Linked DNA regions of Homo sapiens: all the other regions are reported to be linked to region 2. Evidence: microRNA targets listed by miRTarBase, many of them from high-throughput screens and not tested one by one. Region 2 holds a microRNA gene; each other region holds the end of a gene's coding sequence.

Region 1 (4,067 bases), not on the chromosome of region 2:
ATTAGAATCACTTGTCTATCTTTCCTATCTCCATCCCTTGTTTTATAGTTGTTCCTCTTTTCATCCTTTTCTTTTCATCAAATTATTATCTTTTCATCCCTTTCTCATTTTCCCCCTCTTCATCAATACCCACTGATACCTCCTATAGACCCTCCCTCAACACTCATCTATTTCTTCCATTCATACCTGTTGACACCCTTACTTAGAATTGCCAGTTCACTACCAACCCATCTGTGTCTGAGAGAGCTGTCCCCCATATTCCCTATAGCTGTCTGTTGTAATTACTGTCTTGTTAGTCCACGAAACTACAAAATATAAATTCTTGCCTCCTCCCTCAGAAAAAAAAAACCCTCCAAAAAGATATGAAGAACAATAACACATTTGCTTTTGACACAACTCTCTGAGGAACTGCTTTCCATGTTCAGGTTTTTTTTTTGTTTTGTTTTGTATTTTTTTTTTTCAGACCAGGTGCTGTCCATTCAGGATAGCTCTCTGCTAGAACTGATAGTGTCCAACATATTACACCTCCTCTTCCAAGAAGTGTGGCTGTGATTGAGCTGTGTTCTTTCCAACTAGTTGCACTCCCACCAGTTTCTTCTGTGGGTTTCTACATGCTTACTAAGACATTGCCTGCATCTCCAGAGTACCAGCAACTACTTAGATTTTCTTTGACCTCATGCCTCTTTTGCCTTTTGCCTGCAGTTATCCTAGATCCCACTGACTGTTCTTCTCTTACCTACATCATTCTAGGCTGTCTCTGGCCCCATGTCTTTATGTCCCTCCCTGACTCTTACCATTACCCTTCTGGTTAACATTAGACCAAACCTGTGGTGGGCACTGTGGTGGCAATTTGGAATCAACATAAAACCTAAAAAGGGTACAATGGTTATAGTGCTCCAGACTACTCTTCACTCAGCCTTTAAGGGTGCAGGACTCTAAGACTAGAACAGTTCTTTGTACATAATAGGTATTCAAAACTACTAGCTGAACGGAATGTTCTGTCATATATAGCAGGAGTCCCCAAGTCCCTACCGTGGCCAGGAAAGCAGGAGGTGAGGGGCCAGTGAGCAAGCAAAGCTGAGCTCTACCTCCTGTCAGATGAGCAGTGGGATTAGATTCTCACAGGATCGCAAACCCTATCGTGAACTGCACATGCGAGGGATCTAGGTTGCGCTTTCCTTATGAGAATCTAATGATAAATGAAACAATACCCCCTTCCCTATCCTTGGAAAAATTGTCTTTCACGAGACCAGTCCCTGGTTCCAGAAAGGTTGGGGACTGCTCATACAGAGGATAAAGGAAAATCAGTCTGTCATGTGTTTACCAATTTTAGGAAACCTAATCTTAGGATAGCCAAAATCATCTTTCTTACCATTGCAGAAGCCTCCCTAAATTCAAGGATCAGAAACATGAGTTTCCCCTTTAAAGACTCTGAGCAGTTTCTAAGCATTGTAGTGTTTCTCAGAAAGACTAAAGGTAAAAGGGGAAAAGCCATTATTCAGAAAGCACCTAACTTTATTTTTAAAATAAGGATGTTTCTAATACTAATACTAAATATTTCTTACTTTACTTTTCTCTTCATGACCATTAAAGAAAATCCTTTCTTTGAGTGTTTCAAATACTTTGAAATATTACTCAGGTAAATATAGTAAGTTATAAAACAAGTATTCGTGTGAAACCTGACATTTAAAAGATGTGTTGATGTAAGATACTCAAAGTAAATATACATTTTTTTAAAGGACCATTATGTTAAAGGGACATAAAAGCTCAGTTTATCTTTAGGGCATTATGAGAAATACCTTAAGATTCATTTTCTTGGCTGGGCATGGTGGCTCATGCCTGTAATCCCAGCACTTTGGGAGGAGGATGGGAGGATTGTTTGAGGCCAGGAATTCGATACTAGCCTGAGTAACATAGTCAGACCCTATCTCAAAAAAAAAAAAAAAAATCCAGATATGGTGGTGTGCACTTGTAGTCCCAGCTATTTGGAAGGCTGAGGTGGGAGGATTGCTGGAGCCCAGGAGTTCAAGGCTGCAGCCAGGAGTTCAAGGCTGCAGTGAGGTATGATTGTGCCACTGTACTCCGGCCTGGACAATGGAGCAAGACTCTTTCTTTCTTTATTATTATTTTTAAAAGATTCATCTTCCTACAGTTATAGACATAAAAATGATTCTTATAGTTTTCCTGATCTTAAACACAATGATAAAGCAGTTGTTCTTAATAAATATCTTCAATTGAAATATCTTAATTGAAAACAAGAGATTTGAAGAGATTAGATCACTTCTTTCCTGATTGTTTTGGTGATCCTTATTCCTAGAACTAAGTAAAGAACCAGAGCTCTGCTCTTGGCAGTTTGATTGGTGGTGTGAATTTGAATGTGCAAGGCCTATGGCCACAATTCCTATCATGCTATAAGATTCTCAAATTAGAGATGTGGCCAGGTGTGGTGGCTCACACCTTTAATCCCAGCACTTTGAGAGGATGAGGCGGGCGGATCACTTGAGTTTGAGACCAGCCTGGCTGACATGGCAAAATCCTGATAAAAGTACAAAAATTAGCCAGGCATGGTGATGCATGCCTGTAATCTCAGCTACTCAGGAGGCTGAGGCAGGAGAATCGCTTGAACCCGGGAGGTGGAGGTTGCAGTGAACAGAGGATCACTCCAGCCTGGGCAAAAAAAAGAAAAAAAAAAAAAAAGGTGTGTATCTGTGCTGTCCAATATAGTGGCCACTAACATGTAGCTATGAGCACTTGAAATGTGAGGAACTGAATTTTCCATTTTATTTGAGTTAATGTGGGTACTGGCCACCAATCTGGACAAACTGGACCAAGTTAGACCAACCCCTTCCTATCTCCCTCAGTTTAAAATAACCTGAAATCCAGAAAAGAAGTTATATCTAGTTATAGATTCCTTCCTCTCCCCAGCAGCTCCTAATGATCACAGACTGCCTCCTCCTCCATTTTGTTTTCCTCAGCCTTTTTTTCTTCTTTTTGAGATAAGGTCTTGCTCTTGCCTAGGCTGGGGTGCAGTGGTGCGATCACATCTCACGATAGCCTTGAACTCCTGGGTTCAAGTGATCTTCCCACCTCAGCCTCCTAAATAGTTGGGTGGAACTACAGGTGTGTGCCACCATGCCTAGCTAATTTTTCTTAAGTTTCTGTAGAGGTGGTGTCTCGCTGTGTTGACCAGGCTGGCCTCCTGTCTTCTGATGGCTTATTCTTTATCATTGGCAAACAAAAATTTCCAAAAAATAATCATACTCCCCATTTTAAGATAAAAAAGGGATGTTGAGGCTATTATATGAGTAATGGTGGAAAACAAATAATTAGCATTGTTTTATATCTTAATCTCAAAAGTAGTTTTCATCAGTTTTAACTTGTCGAAACATACCTGGTAAGCCTCTATTATCATCTGTACTTTACAGAAGGGGAAATGAAGGCAGAGAAAAATGTGTATGTCTTGTCTTGCCTAAAGTCAGACACTGAATGGTCAACTAAAAAGGACCTGGAGCAGAGACAGAATTAATTCACTGTCTTTCATCCAGGAACCATTGATCTTGGGCTGCAGGTGAGCAGTGTTGTCAGTGGACAAGGCTTTCTGAAAGAATTCTTGATTCCCCCTCAAAACTGAACTAATTTGAAATAAAAGGATATTTTACTCAGGTAGATTCTTTGGTCCAGAGAAGTTTAATGATGACTGAAGCTTTGACCACATTGAGGAAACTCAAGGTTTCTAAAATAGATTCTTTGATAACTAGTTAGGCCTGAGTGTCCAAAGAACTTTTGATATTACTGCTATATTAGTAGAGTTTATTTGCGGTATGAATTCTTTGATGTCTAATAAGAGCTGAACTTACTCGGAAAGGCCTTCCACACTCATCACATTCATAGGGTTTTTCACCTGTGTGGATTCTCTGATGCTGAATAAGACCTGTGCGCCCACTGAAGTCTTTCCCACATTCTTTACATTTATAGGGTTTTACTCCCGTGTGTACTCTATGATGTCCAATGAGATGTGAGCGCTGAATGAAGGCTTTTCCACACTCATCACATTTATAGGGCTTCTC
Region 2 (4,067 bases):
AAGGGCCAGGTATTTCCATGTCAACCCTGCTTTTTATAACCAGAGAGAACATATGAGGTAGCACCAATGACCTCCGCCACCAATCCTTCCTATTAGCTGATACCCAAACACCGTTCCTTCCAGCCGAAAAGAGCCCTCATAAAGAGAGGGCAGAGAGAGTGTGTCAAGGCCATGTGACAGCAGGCAGTATGCTGTTGCCTCCGGGGTATCCAGGGTAGGCGGCTGCTGGGTCCATGTAGATTGGGTGCTCTGCTGGCTACGGAGGGGTCAAAGGACAGGTGGCAAGGGTGCAGAGCCGCAGCCTGGCCCTGGGATTTTCTTCTCAGACCTCTGCTCCGGGGTCCACCTTCGGGGGAAAAGAGGGCACAATTTTACAACTTTGTAAGAGGAAACCTGAAGTTTTCTGACCCCTGATTCTCCCCAGCCCTGTCAGGATTGATCTAACTCTCTGTTGAGATGCAAAAGAGTCTGGAGATAACAGTACTCCCCCCACCATGAAAACAATTATTGTCAAAGGAGTTTTATAGCAAACAGAAAATCCGGCCCAGAATTGGCTAAAACATTTGGGGAGCTCACATCAGGAAATGAGATTCGTTTTTATTTCTTGATTCTGCTGAATTGGATTGAAGGCAGCAGAAGGCATTAAGTGGGATTTGACCTGGAGGAAGGTGGCCTGGCGGTGCTCCTGGCTTCCCCGACCCTCCCTCCCTAGCCGTGTGTAGCAGGCACTCACTTTGCTTACAGCTTCCTCGGTGCCATGTATCTGTTTTTGGAATCACACCTTGCCTGGAAGGCTGCTTGGACCCATGGCCAGTGCCACACAGGGGCCTGGGCACCGGCTAACTGCAGACCCAGCCACCTGCTTCTTGACCACAGAATTCGAGATTTACTCATGAGCTCTCTTGACGCACTGACTTTGGGATGCAAACCATTATGACTAGGGGCACTTCCCGTGGCCTGGACTTCCACAAGGAAACCCTGGTTCCACCGTCAGGAAAGCTCCAATACCTGGAAAGAGGTTGTACCTAAAGTGTTCTCTGTATTGGCGGAAAATGTTTCCCGGGCAACCTCTTTTCATTGTGAAGGCTTGAAGAGCTTTTGGCTGACTTCCCAAAAGCAACCTGGGACACGCAAATAGAAGCCATCTGACGTCTGGTCTACCCAGTGCCATGTAGATTCGGGGAATCTTCCTGGAGGTGACACCAACATCGGCGAAGATTCGGCAGTTCTGTTTTGATTTTTTTTGTTTGTTTTTTGATCAGTGCTAATCTTCGATACTCGAAGGAGAGGTTGTCCGTGTTGTCTTCTCTTTATTTATGATGAAACATACACGGGAAACCTCTTTTTTAGTATCAAATCCCACCCTGGAGGCACTTCCTGTTCCTGATGCAGCCTTCAGGGAGGGACGTTGCCGGCTCCACTCTCGGTAGGCGCAAGCGAGGCTGACAGCGTGCCATGCGTCGTGGGGGTGTGGCTCTCAGGCCCCAGCCATGGAGGGCCCCTAGGAGGGGAAGCTGAGTTTGGAGAAGGGCCTGTGCTTCTGTGGTTGAAGGAGGTTGCTCATTGTGGTGTTTGTCTATTTGTTGATTCACGGTGGGTGGCGCCTCTTCAGTGTGAGATCTTGCTTGGATGGCCTTCTGGACACGCTAGCAACGTCATTGAAGGGACGATGGTGCCATCTGCTCTCCAGGGTAGCTGAGGGGATGGTAGACCGGTGACGTGCACTTCATTTACGATGTAGGTCACCCGTTTGACTATCCACCAGCGCCCGGTCCATCTGTGGGATGACATCTTGGTGCACATGGCAACTTCGGAGAAGATGTGGGAGGACGTGGGGCCCGTGGGACTCTGCAGGATTTTAGGAGGGGTTTCCCTTCGGGGCCCCCTCCTCCTACCTCGTTAAAATCAATATAAGCAATCATCAGTGAATAATCTCTCTTTTGGTTTCAAATCCTGCCCAGGAGGGCTGATAGTCTGGCCACAGACAATGCCAGGATTGCAGAGGCCTGGGCTTCAGTGCCCCATCAGGGAAAGTCCCACCCCACACCACATGCTGACTGCAGGAGGTGTGTGTGTGACCTGGTACAGGGGTGTGGTTTATCCTCGGAAGGGTTTGAGGAGTGTTGTGTGTGTGCAGGACAGGGCAGGCGTTGGGACAGCTGTGGTAGTGAGGGCCACTTTATTCTGTGCTACATGAAGAGAGGCTGTCTGACAAAGCTTGCCATGTGTTTGATGAATGCTACGTGGCCCATCTCTTTTCCATAGGAGGACTTCCTGGACATGAAGCTAGATTCCGGCAGGGCCACTGGTGTCAGCAGCACTCCTGGTGAGTCGTGGATGGGGGACTGAGGAGCTGGCAGCGTGATTGAGATGAGCCCTTCCTGTGTTGGGACCACTCAGAATCCAGCCGCTTCGTGGGCAGCGTTCAGTCCATGCTTGGGGAAAGGGCTTTGTTGCCGTTGCTCATCTCTGTCTGTTGTTCAGCTCTGCTTGCCTTACGAGGCCCCAGATGCCCTGGATGCCCTCAGTGTCAGACTGCGGAAGATGTGTCCCGGCTGTGACACGCGCTTCAGGGGAGGGCTGTTGGCGTCAGGTCCATGGAGAGGTATGGGAGTGGACATCTTGTCTGAGAGCAGACATTCTATTTCGGGTGTGTGTCTTGGTCCGTTCATCCTCAGTCTCCCTCCCATACCTAGGATGGCTTGTGGAGAGAAGGCCTGCCCTGAGGGCTGAAGTTGGGACCCACAGCTCTCACCCCGGCCTTGGTATGCTCCCATGGCTACGGCAGAGGCACAAGAAAGTAATTAGAAACGCAGAAACTCCTTAAGGCCAAGGCTGGGAACTGCTATATTTCTACCCACAGATCATTGACCAGAACAATTACACGGCCGAACCCAAGGCAAGGGGCGGGGAGGCCCACTCCACCCGGGAGGGGGTTGTGGTGAGGTGTGAATGCAGGAACCGGTGAGGATTTGCCACCACCAAGTCAGTTGTCCACGTGGACCACCTGAGAACTTGGGTTTTATTCATTGCTCATTCATCCCTCCCTAACCCGCAGCTTCCGGTCTGCCCCGGGGGCTCTTCTCCGGCTCAGGCTGATCGACAGTGGTGACGCTGTGCCAGGACCCCTGGTCATTCCATCTGTTTGAGGCAAATGTTAAAAAATCCCTTGCGCTACCCATTCTATGACGACTCCCTTGGCTCAGAGGCTCCATCAGGGCAGACACTTTGCTGTTTGTCCCTAAAGGGTGGGTGGTAGATCTCATCCATCTTATCTGGGGAGTTATTGTGACTCTCCTGGTCCCTCCTCATGTATCCTCAGGAGGACTTTTAGGATGCAAAATCACTGTTTCTGTGCCATTGTCATATTCTGTGCTACTGGAGGAGACTTTTTGTTATTGAGAAATTGAACACATCGTGCTCACAAGCAGCTCCAGGACACAATGCCACCTGTGCAGAGGGGGCAGACCTGTTAGATGTCTCCCAGGTCTTGAGGGGGTTGTATGCACGGCCATATCTTTGTCACCGGTTGCCCGGTGCGCATCAGGACCCATGTGCTCTCAGGAAGCCCGCAGGAGTGATACCAGCCGCGGAGAAGCAGTGTTGTCAACGGTGCTGACGTGCGGTACTTAATGAGAAGTTGCCCGTGTTTTTTTCGCTTTATTTGTGACGAAACATTCGCGGTGCACTTCTTTTTCAGTATCCTATTCTGCCTTGAAGACGTCTTGGTTTGGGTGCAACTTCAGGGAAGGCACATGGGCCCCTGTAGTGGACGCTGATCAGGACCTCCCTACCCCATGTCTTTTCTCCTTCCTAAATTTCTCCTTGTTTTTTTTTTTTTTTTTTTTTTTTATGAAAGCTCCCGTCTTCCCGCCGTGTGCTTTGATTGCATTGACCCTGCCCCACTTCCTCCACCAGCCCAGGCTTAAGCGAATCTCTTGATCTCTTCTCCTTTGCCACTGCAATTGCTTCCGGAATAGGCCCATGACCCCACTGGGCCAGTGATAGGCAAGGAGATGCTTGCTGCAGCTTCTGGGAAAGAAACTGTTTCTCCCTTTCCTGTGATA
Region 3 (4,067 bases), not on the chromosome of region 2:
TCGATTACATTCTGACTCTTGAAAACACCCACCATCACCATGTGCCTTCTTAAAATGTGGGCGGAAAGGGAGAATATGTGGGCAGATGAAAGTAGAGAGAAGGGGCCAGGCACGGTGGCTCACGCCTGTAATCCCAGCACTTTGGGAGGCTGAGGTGGGCAGATCACCTGAGGTCAGGAGTTCAAGACCAGCCTGGCCAACATGGTGAAACCCAATCTCTACTAAACATACAAAAATTAGCTGGGTGGGGAGTGATAGTGAGAAAAACCATTCAAAGTTTACCTCTTTCTTTCCCACAGATCTGGGCATGCTCAGCATGAAAATTCCCAAGGAGGAAGATGTCCTGAAGTCATAGATGTCTTCAAATCCCTGTTCCTATCCTTCTTCTCCAGCTCCTCCTGCTCCCTCTGAAACCTTTTCTAGGTACCCTATGCTGAGACTAAGATCCTGAAGTTAAATACCCAGGTCTCATGAAGACATTGTAAAGCATTTGAATTATTCTAAAAAATTTCTGGAGTTTCTTAGGTTTTATTGATTCATCCTTGAAATCAGTATAATGTGCTATTAATGGAACCAATAGTAATTCGAGGACTAGTTGGGAGATTCTGGGGTAATCAGGGAATATTCCTGCAACACATTTAAAGGAATTGTGTTCTTTTGGAATCATCCCAATTATAACACGAGCTATTGCATAATACAAATAACCCTCTTAAGTCTGAGAGTCTGTGTCTTTATTTGAAAAGATTCTTCAAATTGCGTACTTACTCCTCCATATTCTTTCAACCCACATGAGTCTCCTCGAGAAGTGAGGAGAGGCAGTTTGGAGCAGAATGGAGAGAATAAAATGTTTCTTGTCAAACACTCCATTTTTTCCCTTTTAATTAGTCTGGGAATTTTTTTAGGGGTAGCAGAATCCAGGATGATGGGGTCAGGTGTGGGACTGGGAAATCCAGGATGACAGAATCAGGTGAGGGACTGGGGAAAATATAACCTATTGGAGGCAATCCATTTTGGATTATTGTTTTGCTGAAAGTTTTACTTTCATTTTGGGTTTGAGGAGTCACAGGAAAAAGAAACCACAGTGTTACACTGAGGCAGGGGAATCGCTTGAACCCGGGAGGCAGAGGTTGCAGCGAGCCGAGATTGTGCCATTGCACTCCAGCCTGGGCAACAAAGTGAGACTCAAAGTAATTAATGACCAAAATGAGTGACTGAGACACTGTCAGTCTCCATCCATCGAGGTTTATGAAATCGGCTGTGGGGCACGTCCAGGGAAAGGTGAGCCACAGACACCTCTGTGGCTGTTTTTCTGAAGTTTTCAGGATATTTACTATTTATACATTTCCTTAGACGGGGGCAGGCATAGAGGCAGAGGGGTGGGTAGGTGGTGAGCTGAATGGTTAAATTCCTATCAGTCTTTAGTTAGTGCCCAGTAAATCTACATTTAAAAAAAATATATGTTTCTATTTTTTATTTATTTATTTATTTTAATTTTTTTTTTTTTTTTGAGACGGAGTCTCGCTCTGTCGCCCAGGCTGGAATGCAGTGGCGTGATATCGGCTCACTGCAAGCTCCGCCTCTCGGGTTCACACCATTCTCCTGTCTCAGCCTCCCGAGTAGCTGGGACTACAGGCACCCGACAACATGCCTGGCTAATTTTTTGTATTTTTAGTAGAGACGGGGTCTCACCGTGTTAGCCAGGGTGGCCTCGATCTCCTGACCTCGTGATCTGCCTGCCTCGGCCTCCCAAAGTGCTGGGATTACAGGCATGAGCCACTGTGCCCGGCCTATGTTTTTATTTTTATTTTTTTGGAGACAGAGTCTTACCCTGTCACCCAGGCTGGAGTACAGTGGCGCAATCTCAGCTCACTGCAACCTCTGCCTCCCGGGTTCAAGCAATTCTCTTGCCTCAGCCTCCTGAGTAGCTGGGATTACAGGCGCCTTCCACCATGGCCGGTGAATTTTTGTATTTTTAGTAGAGACAGGGTTTCACCACTTTGGCCAGGCTGGTCTTGAACTTCCGACCTCAAGTGATCCGCCCGCCTTGGGCTCCCAAAGTGCAACGTTTTACATAAGATAAAGTGCATGTTTGAAGGCAAAAAAGGGCGTAAAGGGAGTAAAGGAAGCACCAATTACTTAGACATCTTTGGGTAGGTGGAGGAATGACTGAGCTCATCTTATCTTTGTTCCACGCCTCAGAAGATAAGCTAGTAATGGACATTGTCAGTGTGGAATAAAACAGACCTGAGTTTTAGGAGCTAGACTTACATTGTAGACCTGAAGTTACAAAGGGTGAGTTCTTGTTTATGGGAAGTCAGCAAAGAATTTCCTTATGAATGATTTGCGGGGGCATTCGTGGATGCCCGGGGCCTCTTCCCTTTCCGTGGGGATCTGGCTGATGCCAAATGCCAGCAACTGCTGTCCAATTGGAAGAGGGCGCTGCCTGACTCAGCCACCAGGCTGACCTCTCCTTTTGCATAAGGAGTTTGGGGAATCCTGAGGTTTTTCTTCGCATAATGAATAAGTATTAATATTGTTAATACTTATTCATTAATATTGTAATTAATTATAATTATTACAATAAATTACAATAAATAATTAATAAGTAATTAATATTAATTAATTACTATTCATGGCATGGTGGCTCACGCCTGTAATCCCAGCAGTTTGGGAGGTCGAGGCGGGAGGATCACTTGAGGTCAGGAGTTCGAGACCAGCCTGGCCAACATGGTGAAACCCCATCTCTACTAAAAATACAAAATTTGCTGGGTGTGGTGTCAGGTGCCTGTAATCCCAGCTACTCGGAGGCTTGAGACGTGAAAATTGCTTGAACCCAGGAGGCAGAGGCTACAGTGAGCTGAGATTGTGCCACTGCACCCCATCCAGCCTGGGTGATAGAACGAGACTCAGACTAAAAAAATAATAATAATAAAAATAATAATTATACAGAGTCAAATGTCGGGGATTCAAGGAGGCAGAAAGCAGATGAGTTCTCGCCCTGCTGGAGACTCACGTCCCTGGGAGAAGCAATCACTTAAAGTGATTAAGTTAATACGAGAGGCTGCAGTGAGATTTTTTTTTAGACAGGGTCTCACTCTATTGCCTGGGCTGGAGTGCAGTTGGGAGATCTTGGCTCACTGCAGCCTTGACCTCCTGGGTTCAAGTGATTCTCCCACCTGAGCCTGCTGAGTAGCTGGGACTACAGACATGCACCGCCATACCCAGCTAATTTTTGTGTTTTCAGTAAAGATGGGGTTTTGCCATGTTGCCCAGGCTGGTTTCTAACTCCTGGGCTCAAGTGATCCGCCTGCCTGGGCCTCCCAAAGTCCCGGGATTATAGGTGTGAGCCACCACACCCAGCTTTGCAGTGAGGTTTTGAAGCAGTGTTATGTGATGGGATTCTTTTTTCTTATCAAAAAATAATTTACTGGGCAAGTACGGTGATTCACGCTTGTAATCCCAGCACTTTGGGAGGCCAAGGTGGGCAGATCACTTGAAGTCGGGAGTTCAAGACCAGCCTGGCCAACATGGTGAAACCCCATCTCTATCAAAAAAATTTCTACTACATCTCTACTACAAAAATTGCCAGGCGCGGTGGCTCACACCTGTAATCCCAGCACTTTGGGAGGCCGAGGCATGTGGATCACCTGAGGTCAGGAGTTCGAGACCAGCCTGGCCAACATGGTGAAATCCTATCTCTACTGAAAATACAAAACTCAGCCTGCTACAGTGGCAGGCGCCTGTAATCCCAGCTACTCGAGAGGCTGAGGCAGGAGAATCGCTTGGACCCGGGAGGCAGAGGTTGCTATGAGCCGAGATCTGACACTGCACTCCGGCCTGGGTGACAAAGCTAGACTCTGTCTCAAAAATAAATAAATAAATAAATAAATAAATAAATAAATAAATAAATTATTGCCTTCTAATATTTTTTTAGCAGCCCAAGTCCAATGATTGCATTAAAAAAATTTGTTGCATCTATGCCATGAATACAATATTTAGGCAGTCATGTCAGCTTTTCTTTTATTTTTCTCTTTAGGATAGGGCCTTACTGTCACCCAGTCTGGAGT
Region 4 (4,058 bases), not on the chromosome of region 2:
CAAATGGATGTAACAGGGCCAATGAAACAGTGACATACATGTATGGTAAGCAACCTCAGAAACAGGAAAGGCTGTACTTCCTTTTCACCAAAGAGACAATTCTGCTCCCAGAAAGCTTAGCTATGAATACACTTGAAATGAGAGCTTTACCAAAGCATGAACCTAGGACACATGCTTTTAAATTGGCAGTTAACATTCTTGAAAGCAATGGCTTAACAATGGTTATTAAGTGATGTACTGCTTAAAGTAAAACATGGACTATACCTGATTACAAATTACATCCAGTCTGTACAAGTTGAATACATACCATACTTTAATAACCAAGACAATTCAGCTGTTTTTCCAGAGTATATTTCAAACAGAGTTGGCATATAACCCGTATGTAACAATATTGCTGTGATTTTAGTCATATTTAAGGGTCCAAAATATGTTCACAAAAGAACAGTTTGTGAATGTCAACCAGTTTTTGCTTTATATTCCTTCAAAAACATTCCACCCTGGTCATTCACACTAATCTACATCACTGAAAATAACCAAAATAATTCACAGTCTCACCTCTATGTAAAAATTCTAATTGACTCAACAGGGAAAGGACTGCCCTGCTCCTTTTGAGGAAGGAAACCTGCAAGGCAAGTTCTCAATCCCTAAAACCAAGCAAAAATGTTCCAGTGCAGTTGCTGTAGCCATGTATTTAGGATTTGTATTTATAGAATTAAATTTGAGAATGAAACATGGCCATACACATCGCAATAAGCTGCCTCTCATATCAAAAATACAATGCAAAATGACTTGAAGACATTTCCAATAACACAGATTTGAAAAACTGAACGCTTAGACATAACTCCTGCATCTTTCTTTAATTAAGAAGTCATTGCCACACTTACAAAGTTAGAGGCAGTAATCTATATTAGCGTGTGATTAATCAAAGAGTACACTTACTACCATGAACTTGGGCCCTATGTCATAGAATTATTTTTGCCTTTCCCCCAAAGAATCATTTGCTCTTGAAGTAATAGGCTTTTTAAGGCACATTTTAACAAAAACCCATCATATACCCAGCTTAAACATGGAAGCTCCAACCTGGTTATAGTAATAAATATACCTAAGTAATGTGTGATTTACCAAATAGGCTAGTGTCTCTAGCTTGAGGATAAAGTCATATTAGAAAACTGATTCTTCATTTGCTTATTCAAAGTGAAACAACATGTAAAAAATATTAGAGAATTAGATTTATAACAATAACCCCTAAGTGTCAGGTCTGTTGGCAAAGGTCCAACAGGATATAGCTCTGGAAATCAGGGAGCCCTGGGCTCCTAACCATCCAGGTTTCGGAGTAGGAATCATGAGGAAAGGAGTTAGGGCACCTTAATTATTTTTAGAAATCTCCTTTCAAAATGCACAGAACCTTGGGAGGCTCAAACCTTAAACACCAACCAGATATCATCTTAAATTCAGTTACCAGCTTCAAAGAAACAGGACTTGGGGAGAGGAAGGAGAGAGGTTGGAAAGAAGCCACAGAGAGAAGTGGGAAAGTTTAGGCTGGGCACAGTAGCTCAGGCCTGTAATCTCAGCATTTGAGGAGGCCAAGGCAGGAGGATTGCTTGGGGCCAGGAGTTTGAGACCATCTTGGGCAACACAGTGAGATCCTGTCTCTACAAAAACAAAATTTAAGAATTAGCCGGGCGTGGTTGTGCACACCTGTAGTTCTAGCTACTAGGGAGGCTGAGGTGGAAGGATCCCTTGAGCCCAAGAGGTAACAGTGAGCTATGATTGTACCAATGTATTCCAGCACAAGCAACAGAATGAGGCCCCCCTCTAAAAAAAAAAAAAAAAAAAGTTTCAAGTATAAGTTGCTTTAGGGACTTTATATATTTTGCTAGGACCAACTTTGATGTTCTTAGGAGGCTCTGCTTTAAAAAAAAAAAAATCTCATTTTCTAATGCCCCACAAGCATGCCTTAGGGTGCTAACCCTTGAGATGCACGTAAAATTATCTACTTGGAATGATTTGGCATAGGGGTAGATTTAGGACTCTTAATTTCCTGTTAGTCTAAAGTAAACATAAGTGAAATAATTTCACAGAAACAATTACACAGCTAATTGTAATGTCTCTCCAGCCATCCTTTTCCCACTGACCTTTAGGGGTCTTCAGGATGACTCTTCAGCCTTGCAGAGCATGCTGGTGGCAGGCTGAGCTTGGCTTAATCATAAGGTGGGAACAAGTGGAGTACATGAGGCATGTTATCACCAGTGAGAAGGAGATGTGGAGGTGACAAAAGTGACTAACAGGATTGAGCTCCATGGTGGGGTTCTGCGATTTGTTCTATTCACTATGGTCATGGAGCAATAAAGAACTGGTCCTGAATAAGCATTTTAAATGCAGCACACCAGACCATCGCACAGGGCCAAAAGTCCAGAATTGTATCTATGTTTTTTAGTCTGCAGTTGCCAATCACATACTTTTGGAACAACTTTAGGCCTCTGATGTTACTTTAGCCCTGGGTGGTAGGTACAGAAAAGCCTCCAGAAACCCTACAATTCAGTGACATTCTTACTTCTCTCCAGTGTTCGGCACCATTTTGGAAATCTGGTCCCAAAGTTTCAAAAGAATACTAATGCAACAAAAAGAAATAACCTCTCTGTATAAAGTGATTATAGAGATGTGTGTTGAGGTAAACAGCTTCATAAAAACCGTTGAGCAGGGAAGCACAGCCACTGCTATAGAAATTTTTAGGTAAGTCTGGTGCTAGCATTATTCTACAAAACTGTTTACACCCATTATAAATAGGGGACAGTTCTTATTGCTCCTGGAGCTTGTAGCTCCAATCTGTTCCAGCTCCACTGAAAAATGATTTTTCTCAACAATTGGTAGCAAAGATTTCCAAATTTACAAAAAGTCATTACCAATGCATCACTTTTTGATTAATTTCTGATTGCCATATAGATATGGACTACAGTATGCATGTCCTTGACACCAAGTACAGAAAAAAAGCTTAGAAAAGTCGTTTTATCAAAGTTCAGTTCAATGAGAAACATGAAAAAGTGCAAAATATGTACAATTCCTGGCAGTTCTCACACGGGATTTTTTTGACTACAGACCATAAAAGTTTACATTTGTGTAATGAAATGACAATGGATTTCACATCACTGTTAATATACAAGTTTTTGCTTCAAAGTGCTTACTTTATTTATAAAAGAGAAGATCAAGAGGGTTGCAGGAATTTTTTTTTTTTAACAACAAATCAATGGTATGTGTCCCAATCTCCTTCTTCCTCTTCCTTTAGTGCAACATGGCGCAGCAGCCTCATGGATAAGGTCTGATTTCAAAAGACATTCCTGAAACCTCACCTACAGCAGCACTCTAGGGGTCCCATTAGGGGTGGCTCTCTTTTTCTTCTGCAGCCGATTCTGAACCTTTCGAGATTTTACTACTTTCATTCTCACCTCAAAAACTTCATGAATGGCCTTCCGGAAGCAATGAAAATTATAGTCAATTAGCCCTGGAGAAGAGAACAAAAATATTTATAAATGTCACGTAGAAATAATCTCCATCTTTTCATGGGACCCATGGCCAGGACAAGCCAGTAGGGGGCAGTAGAGGATGGTCTTAGCGTAAGGACCAGAGATTTCCCTGGGATGTCTGCAGCTGGCCTTCAGAAATTGCTATAAATCTTTAGGAATTATAGGCAAAGTCTTGTGAAGGAAGATTTTTCCTGATGCAAGGTTGCAGAGCATAGACCATATTTTCAAAGGTTCCTATGACCCAAAAGATTTAAAGAACGACTGAACTGAACTTTTTTTTTAACCTTTCAGAATTAAAGATTTCTTACAATTAAGAGAAATCTGTAATGAAAAATGTTTCTCCCCAAAGGGCATTATTAGACTGAGTAGAGGCAGATCCTGACTTGGGATCCCAAAGCTGTGTATCAATCAATAAATATTTACTGAGTATCTATTATATTTAAACCATTCTCATAAGCCCGAGGGAAAGCGAAGCCCCTAATTTTAGAGTGTTAACAGTCATCTCGCCAACTCCAGCAGAAATTCAACAACCAATGA
Region 5 (4,067 bases), not on the chromosome of region 2:
AGAAAGGGTGAAAGGGGATTGCGTTTGTATACATTCTTGATAGATCCTCATGTTAATTCTGAGAGATTGGAGGACAGACACTGGATCAGATGTGGGTACAAGCCCAGAGCTGAAAAGCTAGTGATCAACTCAGGAGCCCCCACTTCCTGATGCAGCATCCGATGCTCTTTCCAATGCCCAGCCTGCCGTTGGCCCTCCCTCAGCCATGCCCACCCTCTTCCCCAACTCACCCTGTGTGTGTCCTCCTTCCCGCAGGTCAACATTGACCATGAGACCCACGAGCTGACGAGGATGAACCTGCAGACTGCCACAGCCACATGCTTTGATGCGGCTCAGGGGAAGACACGTACCCTGATGGAGAAGGACTCCTACCCACGCTTCCTGAAGTCGCCTGCTTACCGGGACCTGGCTGCCCAAGCCTCAGCCGCCTCTGCCACTCTGTCCAGCTGCAGCCTGGACGAGCCCTCACACACCTGAGTCTCCACGGCAGTGAGGAAGCCAGCCGGGAAGAGAGGTTGAGTCACCCATCCCCGAGGTGGCTGCCCCTGTGTGGGAGGCAGGTTCTGCAAAGCAAGTGCAAGAGGACAAAAAAAAAAAAAAAAAAAAAAAAAATGCGCTCCAGCAGCCTGTTTGGGAAGCAGCAGTCTCTCCTTCAGATACTGTGGGACTCATGCTGGAGAGGAGCCGCCCACTTCCAGGACCTGTGAATAAGGGCTAATGATGAGGGTTGGTGGGGCTCTCTGTGGGGCAAAAAGGTGGTATGGGGGTTAGCACTGGCTCTCGTTCTCACCGGAGAAGGAAGTGTTCTAGTGTGGTTTAGGAAACATGTGGATAAAGGGAACCATGAAAATGAGAGGAGGAAAGACATCCAGATCAGCTGTTTTGCCTGTTGCTCAGTTGACTCTGATTGCATCCTGTTTTCCTAATTCCCAGACTGTTCTGGGCACGGAAGGGACCCTGGATGTGGAGTCTTCCCCTTTGGCCCTCCTCACTGGCCTCTGGGCTAGCCCAGAGTCCCTTAGCTTGTACCTCGTAACACTCCTGTGTGTCTGTCCAGCCTTGCAGTCATGTCAAGGCCAGCAAGCTGATGTGACTCTTGCCCCATGCGAGATATTTATACCTCAAACACTGGCCTGTGAGCCCTTTCCAAGTCAGTGGAGAGCCCTGAAAGGAGGCTCACTTGAATCCAGCTCAGTGCTCTGGGTGGCCCCCTGCAGGTGGCCCCTGACCCTGCGTTGCAGCAGGGTCCACCTGTGAGCAGGCCCGCCCTGGGGCCTCTTCCTGGATGTGCCCTCTCTGAGTTCTGTGCTGTCTCTTGGAGGCAGGGCCCAGGAGAACAAAGTGTGGAGGCCTCGGGGAGTGGCTTTTCCAGCTCTCATGCCCCGCAGTGTGGAACAAGGCAGAAAAGGATCCTAGGAAATAAGTCTCTTGGCGGTCCCTGAGAGTCCTGCTGAAATCCAGCCAGTGTTTTTTGTGGTATGAGAACAGGCAAAAAGAGATGCCCCGAGATAGAAGGGGAGCCTTGTGTTTCTTTCCTGCAGACGTGAGATGAACACTGGAGTGGGCAGAGGTGGCCCAGGACCATGGCACCCTTAGAGTGCAGAAGCTGGGGGGAGAGGCTGCTTCGAAGGGCAGGACTGGGGATAATCAGAACCTGCCTGTCACCTCAGGGCATCACTGAACAAACATTTCCTGATGGCAACTCCTGCGGCAGAGCCCAGGCTGGGGAAGTGAACTACCCAGGGCAGCCCCTTTGTGGCCCAGGATAATCAACACTGTTCTCTCTGTACCATGAGCTCCTCCAGGAGATTATTTAAGTGTATTGTATCATTGGTTTTCTGTGATTGTCATAACATTGTTTTTGTTATTGTTGGTGCTGTTGTTATTTATTATTGTAATTTCAGTTTGCCTCTACTGGAGAATCTCAGCAGGGGTTTCAGCCTGACTGTCTCCCTTTCTCTACCAGACTCTACCTCTGAATGTGCTGGGAACCTCTTGGAGCCTGTCAGGAACTCCTCACTGTTTAAATATTTATTTATTGTGACAAATGGAGCTGGTTTCCTAGATATGAATGATGTTTGCAATCCCCATTTTCCTGTTTCAGCATGTTATATTCTTATAAAATAAAAGCAAAAGTCAAATATGACATCCTGTCTTCAAGTGCTGTGTGGGTCAGGGGAAAAGGGGAAGTGTTGTGGAGAGCTCTGGGGAGGAGCTGGCTTTTGGGAATTCCACAGGACAGGCGAGTAAGCTTCCATGGCACAGGCAGAAGTACAGGGAGAGCTTGATATTCACCTGGTACCTGCCAGAGTCAAGAGAAGGGATAGGTTCTAACGAGGCTGCTATGATCAGTGACTTTTTAAGCTCGTGACAGCCCCACTTGTGTTGGGCTGTTGTGTGGATTGGACTGGGCTCAGCCCACTGTCATTTCAGAGCCCGTATCTTTTGCCCACCTGGCTGGGACTCGGCATGAGCCATTTCCAATTCTGCCTGTAACAGTGCAGGGGTCAGTACCCCTTGGTCAAGTAGCAAGACATCATCAGTTAGGTGGTGACTTTTGTAGGATTTTTACTTTTAAAAGTAATTTGTAATTAAATTCAATTACAAATCTTTTGTAATTTATATTCAAGAAATTATTATTCTTTTTATAATTTCATAGAAGTATCTGAGATGAGGTATATGAAGCCACTCTGTACATGAGGCTGCTCCATTCCATGGGCCAAGGGAATAAGGGTTGAACTGTGCTTGAAAGAATTTGGGGGTACGGAGACAGGCGCGGTGGCTCATGCCTGTGAGCACTGAGGGAGGGAGGCTGAGGAGGGTGGATCACTTAAGCCCAGGAGCTCAAGACCAGGCTGGGCAACATGGCAAAACCCAGTTTCTACAAAAAGTCAAACATTAGCAGAGTGTGGTGGCACATGCCTGTAGTCCCAGCTACTTGGGAGACTGAGGTGGGAGGATGGCTTATGCTGGGGAGGTCAAGGCTGCCATGAGCTGAGATCACTCTACCGCACTCCAGCCTGGGGGACACAGTGAGACCCTGGGGGTAGGTTTGCAAGGATCAAAATCTGTTCTTCCTCTGCTAATTGCCTGCTTGTTCTCCTTTTTCATCCTACTGAATCCCTCTCATTTTTTTCTGATTACGACTACTTAAAAAAATGTTTTCTTCTCTGTTGAATGATCTGTTTATACACAGATCTGGACCTTAAATGAACCTTTATTTCTTCCCTATTGATAGTCTGAGTAAAGTGATCAGACTTCAGGAACATGGGGTAGAAATCCCCATAGAATCACATCTTAAGCACAGATCTAAGGAGGGATTCTGTGGGTGACACCAGGGAGGATCCTGAAATTAAGGGCCTGGGAAGGAAGACAGGGACCAACACTGTGGCAGGCCCTGAGCTCTGTTAGTCCTTACAACAGCTCTGTGGAGTGGGTCTGAACACTTTATCATCCAGAGAAGGAAACAAGCTCTGAGAGGGAGGGACATGCTTGGGGCAGCCAGCCAGTGAGTGGCAGAATGGGGATCTGAACTCAGTTATGCCATGGGGAGTCCAGTCTGTGAAAGATGGGTGGAGGAATGTGACTGATAAGGGAAGGAAGAGCGGAGGACCCAGAAAGACAGGGAGGTACTAACACTCGCCCTTTCCTACTGCTCTCCTTCCATCTTTATGCCTTTAACATGCATGTATTGAGTGCATCGAAATCCCTCAGACCCAAATGCGTTGGGTCCAGCTTCTGCACAGGCTCACCAAGGCTTCCTTAGAGGACTCTCTCATCCTCTCCAATCAGATACCACAATTTCCCGGCGGGTCTCCCTACCCCAGCCTCTCCCTGTGCTGGTTCATTTTCCACACTGTGCCAGTCTTCAGCTCTAAAGCACAGATCTGAGCACTTTGTGGCTACGTTAGAACCCCTCAGCGGTTCACTTTTGACTCTAAAATAAAGTCCAGCTTTAATCCTGACACACAAGGGGGTCTCTGACCTGACCCAAGTCCCTCTCCAGACGTATCTCCTGCCTGGACAGCCTTCATTCTCAGACTTTTCCCTTCTCTCTCTCTCTCTTT
Region 6 (4,067 bases), not on the chromosome of region 2:
TGAGTGTCATTGACTTTCTCTTCTTCCTCTGCAGACACATTTGCCAGCAAAGTGGCAGCCACCCAGGACCAGTATGCAGACGCCTCCATAGGTAACGTCACGGGCAGCAACGCGGTGAATGTCTTCCTGGGAATCGGTGTGGCCTGGTCCATCGCTGCCATCTACCACGCAGCCAATGGGGAACAGTTCAAAGTGTCCCCTGGCACACTAGCTTTCTCTGTCACTCTCTTCACCATTTTTGCTTTCATCAATGTGGGGGTGCTGCTGTATCGGCGGAGGCCAGAAATCGGAGGTGAGCTGGGTGGGCCCCGGACTGCCAAGCTCCTCACATCCTGCCTCTTTGTGCTCCTATGGCTCTTGTACATTTTCTTCTCCTCCCTGGAGGCCTACTGCCACATAAAAGGCTTCTAAAGGAACTATCAGATATAGTAAATTTATATATATACATATATATACATAAAAATTATGTATAATGGACAGAGGAAACTGACATTTGTCATGTTCACTTACCTGCTGATGGAATCCAGCTTCAAGAGCATACTCTGTACTAGGGCCGAAGTAAAAAACCATCACCTCCCATTCCCAGGGGCATCATCATGTTCAACAAGGCATGGAGGCAGGGCCATCTTTGCAGCTCAGTCTAGAAGGGCTGCACTCTCTCCAGGTTGATAAATCCTTAAGGCTTTGATTTGTTTTGTTTTTGGTTTTGTTTTCAGTGGAGCTGGGGAGGTAGTTAATGTTTGGCTTTATTTTTGTTATTTTGTTTTGTTTTGTTTTTTTGGGAGAGTCAGGGTTGTTGCTTTTCTTTGTGGAAAGTGAAACCATCCAAATGTAAATGGGTTTTGGTAAAAATTTAAATCATTAGTATTCCCCCTCACCTCCCCCAATCACTTTAAAACTTATTTTGGATTAAGAAAAAATCTGGGCATGGAAGAAGAAAGAAGCATGTCTTCATCGTATTACCAAAGTTCATGCTTATCTCCGGAATGTGAGTGGAGGTGAAGCTGCCTCCAAGAAGAAGCATAAAAGTGGAATGGAGCCAGGAAATCCGATGGTTCTAGAAATAGTCTGATATTTAAACATGTGATACCTGGCAGTCTCGTTTAACAGGTACAAGGAAAACGTGCCTAGATTCCCAGGAACGTGCAAAATCCTTTCTTTCTTATCTCTTTAGCTCTGGACTGTGATTGGCAAGGTCCTTCTTCCAGCATTCAGCCCAGCTAAGCCCCCAGGTGCCCCATCCCAACCCTGTTCCTCCTGTCCACCTGCCATCCCCTATGCAAACAGTAAGAATAACCCCATTCAAAAAGCACATCATCGTTTTCCATTTGCATTAACATGTGTCTCAGTCCCATGTTGCCGTTGCTTGGGATTGTCTGTCAGTTTTATTTTCAAAGGCATCCATGGCTTGCACAATCCTGTTCCAGTCATGACTGAACATTTGCTCCTTCTTCATGTGCCGTTCGGAAATGTTGTTGTGATACCTGTTACACAGTGCATGGTGAAAAACAAATAAAACAAAACAAAGAGTATCTGTATATAGTAGAGTATAGTACATACTGTTCTCCCATTTGGCAATGTTGATTGGACATTGAAGACATAAGTGAGTTTTCTTTTCACCTGAGTTGTTACTTTTGTGCTGTTATTGAGTTTGATTAATTACTAGGGATAAAAGGAGAAAATGGATTATTGTTCACGGTTCTGCACATTCATTTCTAAGAAGCAATAACTGTCATGTGGGGAGAAGTTAAAGCTATTGAGAGGATAGCAGGCAAACTACAAAGATCTTCATGGAAAATTAGCCATGTGGAACACATCAGAGGCCTCTAAAAATCACCCATTAATTCAGGAAGGCCAAGGAGAAAGGCCTTATAGAGACGTTGATATGTTGGATGTGCCTAGGCTTTCAGAGCCACCCTTTCCACAACACCCCTCCCTGCAAAGTATTTATTTCACATCTGCACTGTCTGGCACAGATGGTAGATAGTGCTGGTTTGTTCATTTTATTTTTTTACTTAAAAGGCTATTTTGAGCCCTGTTTCTTTCACTGTCCAGTCTAGTCCTCTTTGATTATATCAGTAGTTGCTGAGTAAGAAAGAAGCCAGGGTGACCAACGGGCCTTTAAAAGTGTTGTCTCCTCTACTTATGCTGAAAGAGAAGGCAATTAAATAAGACTAGTACCTCCCAGGAGGATTGGACTGGGATATTTTTAACCCTTTAAAAAGAATAGCTGTTTCTATGTTAAAATACCAAAGAACATGGATAAACCCAACATTCCAAAGTAGTGAGTCCACTAATGAGAAAAATAATAGAATGACTTTGGTCACCTCTCGGAGACTTCTGTGTCTATAAGGAATCCCAGGCTGGAGACATTCCTAGCCCTCTGTATTGATTCAAAAATACTTAATAAATTAAAGCTGTTGAGACTTATTTTTTCTTCTGTCACTCAGTAACCATGATCCTTCCTCATTTAATAAACATTTGGTGACTGAATGAGTAATTAAATGCTGGTTACCCACTTAATGTGCCAGGTAGTATGATACTTTCTGGGGACTAAGCCATGAACAAAACAGTCTAGATCCCTGCCCTCAGAAGGGTTACAGTTTATGTGATTACTATTTTCATGAGTAAAAGTGAAGAAAGCCATATGGAAAGATTTTTATCTTGCAAGAAAAAACAATTATGAAACTCTTTTAACATAAACACACTGAAACTGTATCAAAGCAATTGTCCAAATTGTATTTATACCCAAGAATTTCTTTAACTAAGAGAGCATAAGGCATATGTTTGGAAAACCACCCTCTTTATCTTTGACCGACTTGCAGATAAATATATCTCTCCATTTTAAACCAAGAAGGGCAATCATGTTGGTGATCCAGATCACTGAGAAAGCCCAGTGTATCCCATCTTTTATCTTTGTTGGCAATGGAACTTTTCTATGGCCCACACTTTACAATTCTTTGTCATTCTAACCCATCCTTCCCATCCTTATTTTTTTTTTTTTTGAGAATTGCTAAATGGAAAGCTAGCCTAGAAGCACCAAGTAAATATATTCAAGGAATATAAGTTGTTTAAACATTAGAAAAATTTTTGCACTCATTTTTTAGCTGTATTAGGAATGTCAATAATCCTGTAGCAAATTTTCACAGAGAACTTTAAGAAATTCTTGCATTGGTCGATTTCAATTTGAAAGCTTTTTGGTTTGTTTGCTTTTTAAATTTTCATGTTCTAGGAAACTATGATTCTGGTTGTTCAGGATTGTTATTATTATAGTTGTGTAAAATTATTTTATTTTGTGTGTATTGTGCACAGCTTGGGGGGGGGGCGGGAAATGCACTAATTGTGCTCTTCCTTATAAATGGTACATATTACTGACACAGACAAATAAAGTTTCTAATTGTTTCTGATTTAATCACTAGTGATACAGCATATTCTGTATGAAATGTTTTCTCCTTTCTCATTGTCATCTACTTCATTTTTTGTTTTCATGTTTTGAAGAAATAAAAACCAAAATGGTATTATTGTGCAACTGGTATCATCATCCAAAGAAAAAAACAGACACCAAGTATTCAAACTCTTGCAAACGTCAACCCTTCGGTCATGCAATGTTCTCTTTTTAATGTCCCAGGAGAACACAGTGTCAGAATATTTGTCTGTCCTACAGTGCTGAGATATATGTTGGACATTCCTCCATTTCACTGATTTTTTTTACGTTGCTTAGTATGACTCTATCTACATCCTTTCCTGCATCCAGGATCATAAGCCCATAAACAGTTACATGTCAGACAACTTTTTAGCATGCAGAGTATTACATCAAATCAGTCGATCCCAAAAAATTCCAATCCCAAAATTGATGGTAGTACAGTTTCTTCCCAAGGGGATGTTTAAGTAAATTTCTCTTTTAGTTTCATATGTTATATTCCTCTTGTAGAACTTCTGCCTCGCATTAACGATTTCTGTCTATATCTTATTAACTTCATATATCATATAGTCAAAACAGTATAGAAGGAAGTGATGTCAGAAATGGAATAAGCATTTGTGGGGAAAAAATGTGACCTCTAAGGTTT
Region 7 (4,067 bases), not on the chromosome of region 2:
ATCATTTATGGAGAAGATGTGAGTACTAAAGCTTGATGAGAAGAAACATGAGAACTATTAAAAGCAGTTTTCTGTAACCAACATGCTATTGCCACACACTCCCAACTTCATTATTAAAGGAAAAAGTTTTCCCCTCTTTATTTAAATCTAAAATATTTTTGCCACCTTGTGCTCTCAGATAGGTGTATTAAGTTACTTTGCAATGTGAATCTTCACTACAATCTAATATTAGCAAAGGTCTTCAAGAAAATAGGGTCCTGGCATTAGATTGACCTTTAGTTGAAATGGTCTAATATCTAATAATAGGGGTAGAGCCAATTGACAAAACACTTGAGGGATCCACTAGAGGGCAGTAAAGTGTAAATGAAATTTAAATTTGCCCCAGAAAGGCTAATGTTATCCCAAACATTTGTATTGCAAGTAAGATTTCTTGAATGCAAAAACATTAGATTAGATTAGTGATGTACAGTGTTTCTCTTTTCCTGGAATTAGTAGTCAAAGAGCCATTAGATTGAAGAGCAAAATGAAAATCAAATTGGTTCTAGTCTCAGCTCTTTTTACTGACTGTGTGATTTGGGGCAATCTAAAATTTGCTTCTCTGGTCCACTTCTATGATATAGATTTGCACAAAATGATTATTTTTAAATATTTACTTATTTATTTGTTTATTTATTTATTGAGACAGTTTCGCTTTGTTGTCCAGGCTGGGGTGCAGTGGCGCGATCTTGGCTCACTGCAACCTCCACCTCCTGGGTTCAAGTGATTCTCCTGCTTCAGCCTCCCGAGTAGCTGGGATTACAGGTGTGCACCACCACACCCGGCTAATTTTTTTGCATTTTTAGTAGAGACAGGGTTTCACTATGTTGGTCAGGCTGGTCTCAAACTCTTGACCTTGTGATCGGCCTGCCTCGGCCTCCCAAAGTGCTGGGATTACAGGCATGAGCCACCGCACCCGGCACAAAATGATTATTAAAGTTCTTTTCAACTCTAAAATTTTATGATTTTATCATTTATGATTCTATCTCAGCCCCTTTAAAACCTTTTTGATTAGACTCAGGTTATTTGATCAACCATAACTTGCCATTAATGGTGATTCTGTTTGGAAATCACCACCACTATTTCATAAAAAATTTAGATCCCTCAAATGCACTGATTTACTTTCACGAAAAAAAATCTACTTAATAAAATGACATGTATATAATCTAGTGACAACAGTTATTGCAACATCTTCTGGAATAAAAACTTGGGCTATTGAAACTATCAATGCCATTTTTTATTTTAAAAACAGAAAAATTAAAACCCACAATTATACGTAGCCAAGTTGTTTTCACTCTCCATTTATTTTCCTTTTAAAGTGCTACATTTGTGAACTCATTAGCAGTTACCCTATCAAAATTTCAAAATCATGAAGAAGGTTATACATAAAAAATGAATGTTGGCTTGAGGGCCAAGGAAATATTGACTGATTAGATAGAAGAGCACATGATAGATCTGAACTACTCTATGTCATCATTCATTTGGTCAACAACTGCAAGCTCCTGGATGTGGCTGATTTTGATAAAGTCATAGAATTCACAGTATTCTTCACATTTGTTCAATGGTCATCATAAATACACATCACAATAACCCTAATTTGTGACTGAAACAGAAACTCTTTTCTTTTTTCTTCGAATTTTGTATAATATTTATTTTATCAAACTCTTTTCTAAATAGCATTTTTAATGAACATGAATGTATAAAACTGTGAACAATTTTAATAAAAGCAGAAACTGGTCGGGCATGGTGGCTCACGCCTATAATCCTAGCACTTTGAGAAGCCAAAGCGGGATGACAGCTTGTGTCAGGAGGTAGAGGCTGCAGTGAGCTATGATCACACCACTGCACTCCAGCCTGGGTGACAGAGTGACGCCTTGTTTCTAAAAGATAAAATGAAATAAAATAAAGCAGAAACCATTTCTGAATCCAGATTGATAATGGAGTCATATTTAACACCATCCTGTATATTTAAATATTTTCAATTTTTTAAACCCTCATTTAGGATGCATTTTCCTATTTGCATAAAAAAAAGAAAAAAATGCCCTGCTGGCAGTGAATTCAAGGGATGAGGGAAAATCGTCCTCTAAAACAGGATTGTTAAATCTGGAATTATTATCAGAAGCCAGAGGTAAAACCATGCTATCTGTACACTCTCCACTGCCTGTTCCAGCAGATAAACTCACCTGGTTACAACAAGGCTGGCACCCATTTCTATGATTCTGAGGCCGGTTAGCTTCCTCCTCAGAGCTTTAGACCCATCAGCTCATCTCAATGCCTGAAGTTATTAGCATGAGATAATAAATTATTCATTTCAAGCAATTTGTTTTTTCACCAAAAGCAGGATGAGGAATACAAGTAGACACGAACTTCAGTGTCAACAGTTTCAGAGAGAAGTTGCACAATACTCGCAACTTTAATAGCGAGCCCTTTAGACACTGTGGTATTACCTACATAAGAGTAATGAGTGAAATGCTGATTGTCTAGGTTCAAATTCTGGCTCTGCTCTTTATTCTGTGCCTCAATATCCTCATCTGTAAAATGGGCATAGCAGTGCCTCCTTTTGGGGGTTAAAACATAAATTAACGCTTGTAAAACTATTTATTATTATTATTATTATTTGCAGACAGGGTCTCACTCCGGTTGCCCAGGTTGGAGTGCAGTGGCACGATCTCGGCTCACTGCAGCCTTGACCTCCCAGGCTCAAGTGATCCTTGCGCCTCAGCCCCAGAGTAGCTGGAACTACAGGTGCGTGCCACCACGTCCGGCTAAATTTTGTATTTTTTATGGAGACGCGGTCTTCCCATGTTGCCCAGCCTGGTCTCAAATTCCTGGGCTCAAGCCATCTGCCCGCCTCGGCCTCCCAAAGTGCCAGGATTACAGGCGTGAGCCGCCACACCTAGCCTATTATAACTATTATTTAAGCTTAGAATATTAAAATGGTTTCATTTTCTCCAATGCTTTTCCAGTGAGATATAGCTAGGAGTATCAGGCTGGCGTTCCAACTAATAATTCACTGTTGATCTTGGACAAGTCACTTCACCTCTTTTGCCCTCATTTTCTTATCCGGGGTCTTAAACAAAATGCTTCAAAAGTAAATGCTCCAAGATGGTCTCCATGCATGTTGTGGAAAGCACCAATTTTAAAATGAGGTGATTGGAGCAAACAGATCGCCAAGACACTTTCTAGTTCTAACACTTCATGTGATTCATTATTTCCTAGGCGTGTGTGGTACATATGGTATGCAAATGGCTGTCTATATTGGGAAACACTGTAGAACCATTCCATTTGCTGAAAAAAATTCTGGAGGTATCTATGGAAAATATCATATCTTTTACTGGGATAGTTAATCTAGAATCATCTCTGCCAGTGTTGTACTGAAACGGGACTGATAAGAACAACAAATACACGTTTATTTTGTACCACGCGGCTGTCAGTGTCCGGAGTCCCCCGGGCAGAGCGCCCCGGGGAGGGCTGGGCCCTCAGAGCAGCAGGAGGGCGCCCAGGGACAGCTCACCCTGGCCCAGCAGGCGGCCCCGCTCCCGGCCGCGGCCCTCGTCCCGGGCCTTGACTCGAACGGCCAGGCGGCGCACTTCGTCCTCCGAGAGGCCGTCGAAGCAGAAGTCCTGGTCAAAGGAGGCCTTGCGGCTGCGCCCCACCACAGTGCTGCATTGCCGAAGCGCGGTGCCCGGCGGCCGCAGGACGAGGCTGAGGCGACAGCTGACGGCTCGGGGCCCGGGGGCGCCTCCGGCCGGGCTCTCGGCGCGGAGCAGCCGGAGGCGGAGCCGCCCGGTTCCCGGACAGTACTCGGCGGCCAGGCGCAGGGCGTCGCCGGCGCGGCCCAGAGCCACGGTGCCCTCGGCCTCCAGGCGCTCGGGAAACGGGACCCGGGACGACGGCGGGCTCGTGGAGGGGGCCCGGGCCGGGGACTGGGAGCCCGCGCGGCGCTCCTTGTCCTCGTTCCCGCTGGAGACGGAGCGGACGCGGGTCAGGCGGCGACTCCTCCCAGCCCGCAGCGCGCGACTCAGCAGCCC

Evidence for each region. The annotated mature microRNA hsa-miR-494-3p reads UGAAACAUACACGGGAAACCUC and lies in region 2 at 1,321-1,342, shown strand. An mRNA with a match to its seed (bases 2 to 7 or 8) in the 3' UTR can be bound and repressed. Matches are read on the target gene's strand: a 7mer-m8 pairs with bases 2 to 8, a 7mer-A1 pairs with bases 2 to 7 and ends in A, and an 8mer does both.
Region 1: miRTarBase lists ZSCAN16 as a target of hsa-miR-494-3p. The part of its 3' UTR that is shown has no 7-base or 8-base seed match.
Region 3: miRTarBase lists GALP as a target of hsa-miR-494-3p. Seed matches in the 3' UTR shown: 7mer-m8 at 845-851.
Region 4: the mRNA of RRAGD is a reported target of hsa-miR-494-3p. Seed matches in the 3' UTR shown: 7mer-m8 at 3,029-3,035, 7mer-A1 at 1,196-1,202, 8mer at 726-733 and 7mer-A1 at 23-29.
Region 5: the mRNA of RGS16 is a reported target of hsa-miR-494-3p. Seed matches in the 3' UTR shown: 7mer-A1 at 2,097-2,103.
Region 6: miRTarBase lists SLC8A1 as a target of hsa-miR-494-3p. The part of its 3' UTR that is shown has no 7-base or 8-base seed match.
Region 7: miRTarBase lists C2CD4A as a target of hsa-miR-494-3p. Seed matches in the 3' UTR shown: 7mer-A1 at 1,641-1,647.

The regions. Positions count from the first base shown.
Region 1 is chr6:28,129,684-28,133,750 of GRCh38, reverse strand. It overlaps ZSCAN16 (zinc finger and SCAN domain containing 16), which reads right to left. Exons shown (of 4, transcript NM_025231.3): 4 at 3,669-4,067. The coding sequence ends at 3,801. The region is part of intron 1 of ZSCAN16-AS1 (ZSCAN16 antisense RNA 1); the gene reads left to right. Among named protein-coding and RNA genes, the nearest start is that of ZSCAN16-AS1, 5.6 kb to the left of the region's middle.
Region 2 is chr14:101,028,361-101,032,427 of GRCh38, forward strand. It overlaps MIR494 (microRNA 494), which reads left to right and starts at 1,274; the gene lies at 1,274-1,354. It overlaps LOC124903407 (mucin-2-like), which reads left to right. Exons shown (of 5, transcript XM_047432049.1): 5 at 1-4,067. It overlaps MIR1193 (microRNA 1193), which reads left to right and starts at 1,692; the gene lies at 1,692-1,769. MIR543 (microRNA 543) reads left to right here and starts at 3,627; the gene lies at 3,627-3,704.
Region 3 is chr19:56,184,916-56,188,982 of GRCh38, forward strand. It overlaps GALP (galanin like peptide), which reads left to right. Exons shown (of 6, transcript NM_033106.4): 6 at 300-860. The coding sequence ends at 355. Among named protein-coding and RNA genes, the nearest start is that of ZSCAN5B, 11 kb to the right of the region's middle. RefSeq lists a cis regulatory region at 1,986-2,584.
Region 4 is chr6:89,364,709-89,368,766 of GRCh38, forward strand. RRAGD (Ras related GTP binding D) reads right to left here. Exons shown (of 7, transcript NM_021244.5): 7 at 1-3,499. The coding sequence ends at 3,348. Among named protein-coding and RNA genes, the nearest start is that of UBE2J1, 14 kb to the left of the region's middle. RefSeq lists an enhancer at 3,329-3,558.
Region 5 is chr1:182,596,702-182,600,768 of GRCh38, reverse strand. It overlaps RGS16 (regulator of G protein signaling 16), which reads left to right. Exons shown (of 5, transcript NM_002928.4): 5 at 256-2,146. The coding sequence ends at 477. Among named protein-coding and RNA genes, the nearest start is that of RGS16, 5.7 kb to the left of the region's middle.
Region 6 is chr2:40,111,597-40,115,663 of GRCh38, reverse strand. SLC8A1 (solute carrier family 8 member A1) reads left to right here. Exons shown (of 11, transcript NM_021097.5): 11 at 35-4,067. The coding sequence ends at 411. All of the region lies in intron 3 of SLC8A1-AS1 (SLC8A1 antisense RNA 1), which reads right to left. Among named protein-coding and RNA genes, the nearest start is that of SLC8A1-AS1, 200 kb to the right of the region's middle.
Region 7 is chr15:62,068,172-62,072,238 of GRCh38, reverse strand. It overlaps C2CD4A (C2 calcium dependent domain containing 4A), which reads right to left. Exons shown (of 2, transcript NM_207322.3): 2 at 1,322-4,067. The coding sequence ends at 3,516. Among named protein-coding and RNA genes, the nearest start is that of C2CD4A, 3.2 kb to the right of the region's middle. RefSeq lists silencers at 3,433-3,922, 3,973-4,067.